3 linked regions of the Homo sapiens genome follow. The protein of the gene in region 2 interacts with the protein of the main gene of each other region in a pairwise test. Each region holds a gene or a part of one and is shown on either strand. Other genes may lie near its edges. The genes, in order: RHOBTB3, EFHC2 and FAM221B.

Region 1 (3,657 bases), on a different chromosome or scaffold from region 2:
CACACCTGGCTAATTTTTTTTTATTTTTAGTAGAGATGAGGTTTCACCATGTCCGCCAGGATGGACTTGATTTCTTGACCTCGTGATCCGCCCACCTCGGCCTCCCCAAGTGCTGGGATTACAGGTGTGAGCCACTGCGCCGGCCCTTCTTTTTAAAATGGAATAATAGGCCGGGTGTGATGGCTCACATCTGTTATCCCAGCACTTTGGGAGGCCAAAGTAGGAGGATCATTTGAGCTCAGGAGTTCAAGACCAGCCTGGGCAACATAGTGAGACCTGTCTCTACAAAAAAAAAAAAAAAAAAAAAAAAGAAGAAGAAGAAAGGAAAGAAAAAAAAGATAAAATGGAATAAAAGTGCAGAATGCTGACTCCCTCGAGGCTTTTCCTAACCATTCTATTCTATGGTGGATGCTACGGTCAGCATGTTTTTTTAATTGTTGTTTTTTGTTGGTGGGGGGTGTTTAGATCATTAAAGAAATGGTTTCATCATCCACTTTCTCTCATGTCCCTTTTCTCATCAGCTGGCATATTCCAGGCCATGTGTCTCCTGATCTGTGCCGAGATGTACCAAGTGTCCAGACTGCAGCACATCTGTGAGCTGTTCATCATTACCCAGCTGCAGAGCATGCCAAGCAGGGAACTGGCATCCATGAACCTTGATATAGTTGACCTGCTTAAAAAGGCCAAGGTAATTGACTCTGTGTATCTGATAGCCTAGTTTTTTATAAAATATTTTTCAAATTATACTATTTTAAAATTTATCATTTTTTAACATACGTTAATACTAGTCTTAGTTTGGAAGTTTGGCTAATGAGGCTAAAGTGCCTTCACAACAGTTTATCTGGCTAGATAATTTTGAAGCGTTAGGGTTTGTGTGCAGTCCCTTTTATAAGGAGGCAAAATGTCCAGATACGGAATTTTTTTAACTAAATAGTGGCCCTTAGTAGAGTCATTTGAATGTGGTGCTATACTATGTCACATAGGCATTGTAGGAAATAGAATTTATGTTGAATTTCCCCAAACAATCACATCTTCAGGTTCCTAAAAGGGAAATGACAGAATTGGTCCATATATACTGATAGCGATGGTTAAGCTAAACTAATTTACTTCTTCATTTTTTCATCCATATAATGAACATGTTTTGAAGTTTCAGTTGTATGTAGGAGATATTGGTGTGCCTCATTTATCCTTGCAGAATGCCTTTTGTTTTCATGTCTCACCTTATTAGCAATCACTGCCGTATGTGTACATGCTTCTTCTGGGCCTCTTGTAAGCTCGGAGTCTTTTGTTTTCAATAATTATATCATTACTGATTTTAGAGAACGGGGGTGGGGGAGTTACATAATTAAGTTAATTTTAAGTAACTGCAGTTACAGAGGCCCTAAATTATGAATCAGAGCCAGGTCTGTAAATAAACTAGGACTACTGTGTTGAAATCTACTTCCCAAACCCCCAGATGTGCTCACAGTCAAAAACCTGCCAAATCCTTATTCCCACTTTCTTTCATTCCTGGAAGCAGAAAGCTTATTCAGATGGGCCATCCTACCGTTGGCCATTCTGCCATTCCATCCACTGCCCGAGACAGTTTCAGCACTTGTGGTAGTTATGGCACACTCTTGTGTACTCAACTTGTGGTAAGCCGAGCCCTCTAGGTTTTTTTCACAGGAATATATTTGTTCAATCACTACAGAGTGTCAGTACTTCTTGAACTATTATCTGGCATCCAACATGTCTATACCTATCAACTTTGACGTCCAGGGTTACAAAAGCATGACAACTTTTATCTCCATCCACATTGCTAAAATGGAGCCACATGATGGGGCAAATTCCAGATCTGTGACAGCTGAATGCTTGCCTCCAAGCTGAAACGAATTCATTCATCAACACTTCTGTTTATAGAAGGGAATTTATTTGAAGCATCTAGGTCTTCTCCTACTATCTCCTTAACTATTTTGGACTTCATTTCTCTCATAATCAAGTCTTACGATCACATGTATTTAATTAGGGCTAAAAACAAATTTAAAAATTGAGTAGGGCCAGGCGTGGTGGCTTACGCCTGGAATCCCAGCACTTTGGGAGGCCGAGGCTGGCGGATCACGAGGTCAGGAGATCGAGACCATCCTGGCTAACACAGTGAAGCCCAGTCTCTACTAAAAATACAAAAAAAAATTAGCTGGGTATAGTGGCGGGTGCCTGTAGTCCCAGCTACTTGGGAGGCTGAGGCAGGAGAATGGCGTGAACCCTGGAGGCGGAGCTTGCAGTGAGCCGAGATCGTGCCACTGCACTCCAGCCTGGGTGACAGAGTGAGACTCCGTCTCAAAAAAAAAAAAAAATTGAGTAACACTGATCTCTTTTTGTAAAACGTTTACATTCATCTCATGATAAATAGCTCCCCTCTAAATTTAGTTTACAATTTTTAAAATTCTTTCTAGTAGTTTCACAATCTCAGTTCATTTTTGATGTATCATTTTCATACTATTCTAACAAGTTGTTCATACTTTTTAAAAAATTGGACACAAGTTTCTTTTTCCTTATCTTTTAGTATCTTCTTAAATTGTTTATGTATAAGAGAACTTCCCGTGTGGTCACATTGATTTCTTTAGGTGCCTCCCCTCACTGCCCCCCTACACTTGGTTCCTCATCAGAATCATTTTTGATTGCACTGTCAGAAATTCTTGACTTGTTTTCCCTGATTCTCTGGTTTCTGACTCTGTGATTATCCTTATCTTTTCCCCTTGAATTTCAAACAATCTAAGATACAAGCTCATTTTGAATTTTGTTTCTGAAGACTTTTTATTTTCTAAGATTAAGCCTAAATTTACCAGTTTTCCTGTATTCTTTTCCTGGTGGTTCCTAATTTGGCAATTGTGAATTCCAGATAACAGAAGTTTTCTTCCCAAGTTTTCTTTGAAGTTCCTAGTTTGAGATTTCACTTCACCAGTCAGTTCACCCTGTTGGTCAGAATTTGGTTAACTTTTGCCTTGCCATTTCTCTGACTTTTAGGAGTGAAATTGTCTTCTGGCAGAATTAGACTCCCAGTAGCTCTCCAAATAATCAAAATTTCTGAACACTCTGCCAGTTTTGTACTGTGTGTCAGGAAACATCATTCATACTTTCTTAGATAGATGAGCAGTGTGGGTATTCTCTCACTTCTCTGTCCATTTTCCCCTAACCTCTCTCAGTTCTTTACCATGATTTACCTTCAGGTTTCCATCAAGGAGGACTCTTAAAATACAAGAGTTGAGGTGGAGATTCCGTATCTCTACTCCTGTTTAAACCCTATCTGTTCAAACTTTGGTGATTCCTATGAAGTTGTATTTATTCTTGTATTAAAAATTTTAATGCATCTTCTTATTTATAATCTATATGTTAATATTTGGCTATCTGAGGCACAAGTTGTATTTCTGAGAGTTTCCAGGTACTTTCTTGTGAGTTTATGGGTATTTTCTCCACGTTCTTCTTGTAGCTCTTAAGTTCTATTGCATTTGGTTTATGGTTTTTTAATGCCTTTTTAAAAATTCTGTTGCTTATTTCAGTTTGAACCCATTTTCTTACGTCAACACATATCCTTCTAAAACCTAGTTTTTACAGTGAGACATGTTCCATTCCTGTTACAGAGTCCCTAGACTATGAATCTGGGCCAGGTCTGTACATTAG
Region 2 (3,657 bases):
AAGTAGTTTTCTCCCCTATTAAAAACTGAAAAGGACTTTTTACCAGCTTTTTTGAGGGAAAAAAAACCCAAAACAGATAGTTAAACTTAGCTTACCTTTCTTTCCTTTCCATACATTCAAAAAACTTTTCAGTCAGCATAATATAAACATGTTAAATAATTCAAGTTATTTCTGTTTATATCTAAGATGGAATTTACTTTTTCAAAAAGTAGGCTAAGATGATTTAATTTAAATAAAGGTTGTAAACTCGTAATTAATGCTGTTTTCAACATCAAAATGTATTGACAATGTTACATAATAAAGCTACTAAAACTATATGACAAAGCATTATGAGTAAAAATATAACCTAAGATATAATTTTATACAAGACTTAAAAATTAGGTTCTTTTACTGACTGACATGATTGGGCTTAAATATAGGCAGTTACAAAATTATAATCTTGATTTCTTTATAGACCTGTATGTACATAACAGTCTTATTTTTTAAAAGCTAAAAATAAATAATAAAATTTACCTCTCCACTCTGAAATCTGTGTTTATATTTTGCCACATAAATAATTCCGGGTCAAGCTTGAAATAAGCACACATCAATTTCATTTTCAACTGGAATGAGAAGATTTCTGGCCTTTTCAATACTTGTTAAACAAGGAAAGCTTTGCTTACATGTATAAGAAGTTGAAAATTATAGCAAAATGGTCATTGCTCTCCTATGAATGGCAGGATGCTTACTTTTATGTAAATTTTGAACTGGCCATATGGTAGGTGTGTGTTTATCTTGATAAGAAATTACCATTTTGCATTCCCACCAGCAATGATTGAGAATTTCTGTTATTCCAAATCCTTGTAAGCAATTGGTATTGCCAGTGTTTTGGATTTTAGCCATTTTAATAGGTGTATAGTGGTATCTCCTCTTTTCTCTCTCTCTCTTTTTTTTTTTTGAGACTGAGTCTCACTCTGTCGCCCAGGGGAGTGTAGTGGCGCGATCTTGGCTCACTGCAACCCTCTGCCTCCCAGTTCAAGCTATTCTTCTGCCTCAGCCTCCCGAGTAGCTGAGATTACAGGTGTGTGCCACCACGCCCGGCTAATTTTTGTATTTTGGGTAGAGACGGGGTTTCACCATGTTGGCCAGGCTGGTCTTGAACTCCTGACCTCAGGTGATCCACCCACCTCGGCCTCCCAAAGTGCTGAGATTACAGGCCTGAGCCACCACACCCGGCCTGGTATCTCCTCTTGATTTTAATTTTTATTTCCCTAATGGCTATGATGTTGAACATCTTTTTATGTGCTTATTTGCCATCCGTATATCCCCTTTGGTGAAATGTCTGTTCGTGTCTTCTACTCATATTTAATTGGGGAGTTTCCTTACTTGAATTCCTGACCTCAGGCGATCCGCCTGATGAGTTTTGAAAGTCATTTTTAATATAGTCTGGATACAAGTTGGGTGCAAGTCTATTATTGAATGTATGGTCTGTAAATATTTTGTTCCAGTCTATGGCTTGAATTTTCATTCTCTTAAAGCAAGGCTAAAAAATATGTACATATATTTAAGGATAAAATATAACATGAGTTCAAAAACTATTGTTTTCAATGCAAATTAAGGATTATAGGGTTTTTACTTCTTTGATTTTATATATTTACATGTAATCTTGCTTCATAAGTACATTAGCTGAATTACTTATCCTAACATAAATAAAAATATACAACCATATAATAATTTTTAATTAATAATAACATTATTAACAATTTGAGTTTTGAAAATAGTTTAAGATTTCTTTATAGCTATTTCTGTTGTGAGAGTATATCCCACCAGGAATGTATAGTCAAATTACTGGGTTTTAGTTTCATTTAAATCATTGCTGTCGGTATGGTTAAGTCACCAACTCAGTATCTAGTTAGGTTCATTTGTTTCATTGTGCTTTTGTTTCTGAACTTAAAAAAAGGCATTTGTATGGTCTCAAAGTCAAATTTGCAAAGTAAGTTACTTTCAGAGAGCTCTAGCTTTTATCTCTGTCTCTTCAATCTTATTCTCTCCCTCTCTCCATAATAACTTAAAGAAAAAACTTTATTTAGTTTGAGGTTATCCTCTTTCTCTTCCTCCTTCTCTTCTTTCTTTTTTTTTTAATTTTTAAAACAGCAAATTGTTAAATTTATTCACATGTTCCCCTTTTATTCAATACTTGGTAGCATAATCTACACAGTCTTTTGAACCTTCCTTTTTTCATTTTAACAGTATATCTTGGAGATCACTTGGTAGTGGTATATAGGGCTCTTCCTCATTTCTTTTTATAGTTACATAGTACTCCATTTTGTAGACTTACAATAGTTTATTCAACCATCCCCTTTTGGTGTACAGTTACATTATTTCCAGTCTTTTGTTATCCAATAATGTTGCAATAAATAGCCAAACTGTGCTTCAAAAGACACTATCAGAAAAGTGAAAAAGCAGCTGACAGTGTGGGAGGAAATATTTATAAAGCATATTATCTGATAAGGGACTATATTCAGAATATGTAAATAACTCCCAAAACTCAATAATAAAAAGACAAATAGGCCAGGTGCGGTGGCTCATGCCTGTAATCCCAGCACTTTGGGAGGCTGAGGCAGGCGGATCACCTGAGGTCAGGAGTTTGAGACCAGCCTGACTAACATGGAGAAACCTGTCTCTACTAAAAATACAAAACTAGCCGGGCGTGGTGGCGCATGCCTGTAATCCCAGCTACTCGGGAGGCTGAGACAGGAGAATCACTTGAACCTGGGAGGCAGAGGTTGTGGTGAGCCGAGATCGCACCATTGCACTCCAGCCTGGGCAACAAGAGTGCAACTTCATTTCAAAAAGCCAACAAACAAACAAAAAGGCAAATAATCCAGTTTTGGTGGTATGGGATTGCTGGGCAGACAAAACAATTGCTGTCTACTATGCTAGATCACAGGATAGTTTTGATATAAAGAATTCTGTCACTTTGTTCCCAGTAACTATTAAAATATCCTTGAAATTACATTATTTCAGATTGGGCCGCTTATTGAAGCTGCCATCCATACTTTGGAAATAACATATTCCATTGCTATTCCTAAATGTTCATTTGAATTTCAGGAATTAGAGTCTCTTTGCCTATGTAGGATTCAAACACCTAATTTTGGTCACCATGCATTCTGTACTGAACTTCGTAGCTCTGTCACCTAGGGTACATTTGACTATAAGTCACAGAATACCTGACTAACAGTGGTTTAAGCCAAATTAATTTTCTCATAAGAACTTTAGAGGTGTAGCAGTTTCAGATTTAGGCAGTGACTGATGAATGTCATAAAGAACCCAGGCTCTTTTTATCTCTGCATTCTGCCATCTTCAGAATATTGGCTTTTCTTTCTTAGGCTTGTGACCTCATAGTTGCAAAATAGTTGCCTCAGTTCCAGTCATCACAACTACATGTAACCATGTTCAAGACAAGCAGGAAGGAGAGGGAGGGGAAACAGCTCTTCTTATATGAGAAAACAAAATGTTTTCCAGGAGCCCCCCAGTAGATTCCCTCCTTCCATCTTATTTGCTAAAATTGATGCACATGGCCATCCTTTACTACAAGGAATGCTGGGAAATTATCTTGTTTTTTTTTTCACCATCTACTTTTGGAGGTGGGAAAGGGAAAAGAGGGTTCAATAGTGG
Region 3 (2,999 bases), on a different chromosome or scaffold from region 2:
TCCCATCCTCAACCATCCCTTCCAGGACTAGCGCGCTCCCTCAGCCCACCTCCCCACCACCCACCTACCTGCATCCCACATCTGCACTGGTTTTCACCCCCAGGAGCAGACTATGTACCTTTTGCAGAGATGGCTGTGCTCCGAGAAGCCATCCTCAGCAACTCTGACTTCTAGGCCCTGCAGATACAGGGGCCCTCTGGCCTTCCCAGCTCCCACCCTAGTCCCCCGGGGCTCCCTGGTTCACACGGTCTCCAGCCTGGCCTCCCTTCTGACCCCCATACCTGACCCTTTCACCTCTGCTCTTTCTTCCTCCAGGGACAGACACTGTCAGCAACTGGCACAGGCCTTTGTGAGTCTGGCCCAGATCAGCAATAAAAGAGGAGTCATTGGAACCTGACTTGGCTCTATATGGGGCAGGTAGATCCCAGCCCAGGGAGAGACTGCCTAATAACTTAGAGTTGACACCTATTAGACACAGGAGAAAGCCTGGATCTGGCCATCTGCCTCCATCACACTCACATTCAAGCTGCCTGTTGAAGGAAAGTGGCTTCAAGGAAGTCAAGAAGGGAGGAAGTTTCAAGAAGGATAGAGTGGGAAGTGATGTTAGATGCAGTTGGGGCACCAATAAGATAAAGACTGAAAAGTGTCCATTGGGTTTTGCAATTAGAAGATCTTTGGGAACATCGGAGAGTGCAGTTTCACACTGGTGCAGTGGAGGCAGGAGTCAAACAGCAGTGAGTTTCAAGGAGTCTCTTAAAGAAGCTTGGATGAAAAGTACAAAAGTAAAGTCAGACAATATCCAGAGGGAGTTGTGGAGTCAAGGAAGTACTTTTGTAGGAAGGAAAAGGGGAAGAGGCCAGTAGACTAAAGGACCTTGAAGGACCCAGAAGAGAGAGAAGAGATGCCTGGTGAGACAAGATCCCAGAGATGGAGGAAAGGGATGAGGTCAAAGCAGAGGTGAAGGGATTTTCTCTGGACAGGAGAAACACCACTTCCTATGACCAAGACGAAGGAAGAGGATGGAGCCTTCCTAGAGTTTCAGGGAACAAGAACCTGTGGAAGTTCCCCTCTGATGGCTTCTATATGCCCTGTGAAGTAGGAGATAAGGCCAATGGCTGGGGTCCAGGGGAAGAGGGATAAGAGTAGGGAGCAGGAGACAAGAAGAGAAAGGGGAAGGTTTGGGAAGGCTAATGTAGGGAACTGGAGAAAAACCTCATCAGTGGGTAGTTCAGGATTCGGGCACAGTTGGAAGTGAGAACCTAGTTAGAGAAGCAGAGAATCCAAATATTTAATGGGTTGATGATGTGAGGGTGTCAGGGAGGAAGATCAGGAAAACTAAGCAAAAGAAGGCATGAGGATGTGAAGGGAGCATACAGCACCAATAGGGAAAGAAAGTGATGCCAGGAGGCAAATGACAGATTGAAAAAGGGAGCAGTCAAAGGAAGAGAAGTCTCTAATGAGGTACAGTAGCAGACGTAGGGGCAGGGGTTGGAGTACAAGAGACAGTGTTCAGAGGCTGCAGAGCATAACATCTTTCAGATGAGGGCAAGTGAAGGTGATAAGTGCTTGAAGTAGAGAAAACTGTGGGCCAAGGATCAAAATCAGTGAATGTGGGAAGTCACAAGGGAGTCCATAGGTTCTTATGGGAGTAGGAGATTCCAGCACTAATGGGCTCTGTGAACCCAGGCAAGTCACTGTCCCTCTTTAGGCTGAGTTTCTGGACCTGTAAAACAGGAATAACCTCTGTGTTGCCTACTTTCTATGAGAACCAAAGAAATAACTAATTTCAAAGTGCTTTGTATCCACCTATCCTCCAGACTGGCTTCCTTCCTCTTCCTAGATCCCAGATCCACTTATCTCTCGCCCTTCTCCAGGGCAACTCTAGGGTCTCCCAGTGTCCCAGAGGCACCACAGAGAACTGCAGCCTCTGGGGCCCAGAGAAGAGGCCATTCTACATTTCCTCACAATTAGGGGGGCCATCTGTTCCTCCAAGGGAAGGAATGCAATCTGGACTGCTAGGATCCCTGGGGAAAATCACAGAATCAAATGTCTGCCCTTTAGAGGAGAAAGGATTTTCTAACAATAATATAGCTATACAAAAGAGATTGTTATATCTCTAGAAGCAAAGTTCCCCAACAGTGGTTATATGCCCCATGATAACCATTCACCTAAAACTAATTCAACTAATAGTCAACAATAGAGTTAGGATTACTATGATAAACTCATTGAAGGAAATAATAAGCAGCCAATACAAACTATATTTACGTAGACTGTAAAAATATGAAAAATTGATTACACATGGGTTAGTATCATATGCAATACATATTACATATTATGAAAAAAAGACAGGAAACACCAAATGTTATTCATTCAACAATTACTGACCACCTATATGTATCAGGTCATGTGTTTAAAAAAAAAAAAAAGAAAAAAAGAAAAACCAAAGAAACAGTGGTAACTTGTCCTATGTGATATCAGACTAAAACTTACCTAGCGTCTGAGAATATTAGTATTTTGTGACCCCACGTTTCTTATGTCAAAAATATATATTCCAGCAGTGCAAACCTGACTTATTGGTGCCTCATACCTGTAATCCCAGCACCTTGGGAGGCCGAGGCAGGAGGATCACGAGGTCAGGAGATCGAGACCATCCTGGCTAACACGGTGAAACCCCGTCTCTAATAAAAATACAAAAAATTAGCCGGGCGTGGTGGCGGGTGCCTGTAGTCCCAGCTACTCGGGAGGCTGAGGCAGGAGAATGGCGTGAACTCGGGAGGCGGAGCTTGCAGTGAGCCGAGATCGCGCCACTGCACTCCAGCCTGGGCGACAGAGCGAGACTCCGTCTCAAAAAAAAAAAAAAAGAAAAAAGAAAAAAAGAAAAAAAAAGAAAACACCAGGCACCGAGCTAACTGTATCACACACCTTTTCCGATTAGAAAAGAACAATGAATACATACTCCTTTGCTTATTATAATTCTTGTGCGGCAAATATAGGACACT

Evidence for each region.
Region 1: the proteins of EFHC2 (region 2) and RHOBTB3 interact in binary tests that used the Homo sapiens proteins (3 or more experiments, as listed by UniProt).
Region 3: the proteins of EFHC2 (region 2) and FAM221B interact in binary tests that used the Homo sapiens proteins (3 or more experiments, as listed by UniProt).

Annotation. Positions count from the first base shown.
Region 1 is NC_000005.10:95,783,276-95,786,932, forward strand, and holds part of RHOBTB3 (rho-related BTB domain-containing protein 3), read left to right. Parts: intron 1-521; coding exon 522-688; intron 689-3,657. UniProt on the Homo sapiens protein: Rab9-regulated ATPase required for endosome to Golgi transport. Involved in transport vesicle docking at the Golgi complex, possibly by participating in release M6PRBP1/TIP47 from vesicles to permit their efficient docking and fusion at the Golgi.
Region 2 is NC_000023.11:44,333,665-44,337,321, reverse strand, and holds part of EFHC2 (EF-hand domain-containing family member C2), read left to right. Parts: intron 1-3,657. UniProt on the Homo sapiens protein: Microtubule inner protein (MIP) part of the dynein-decorated doublet microtubules (DMTs) in cilia axoneme, which is required for motile cilia beating.
Region 3 is NC_000009.12:35,815,823-35,818,821, reverse strand, and holds the end of FAM221B (protein FAM221B), read left to right. Parts: exon of another isoform or gene 1-315; coding exon 316-353; coding exon of another isoform or gene 354-375; 3' UTR 376-2,431; downstream 2,432-2,999.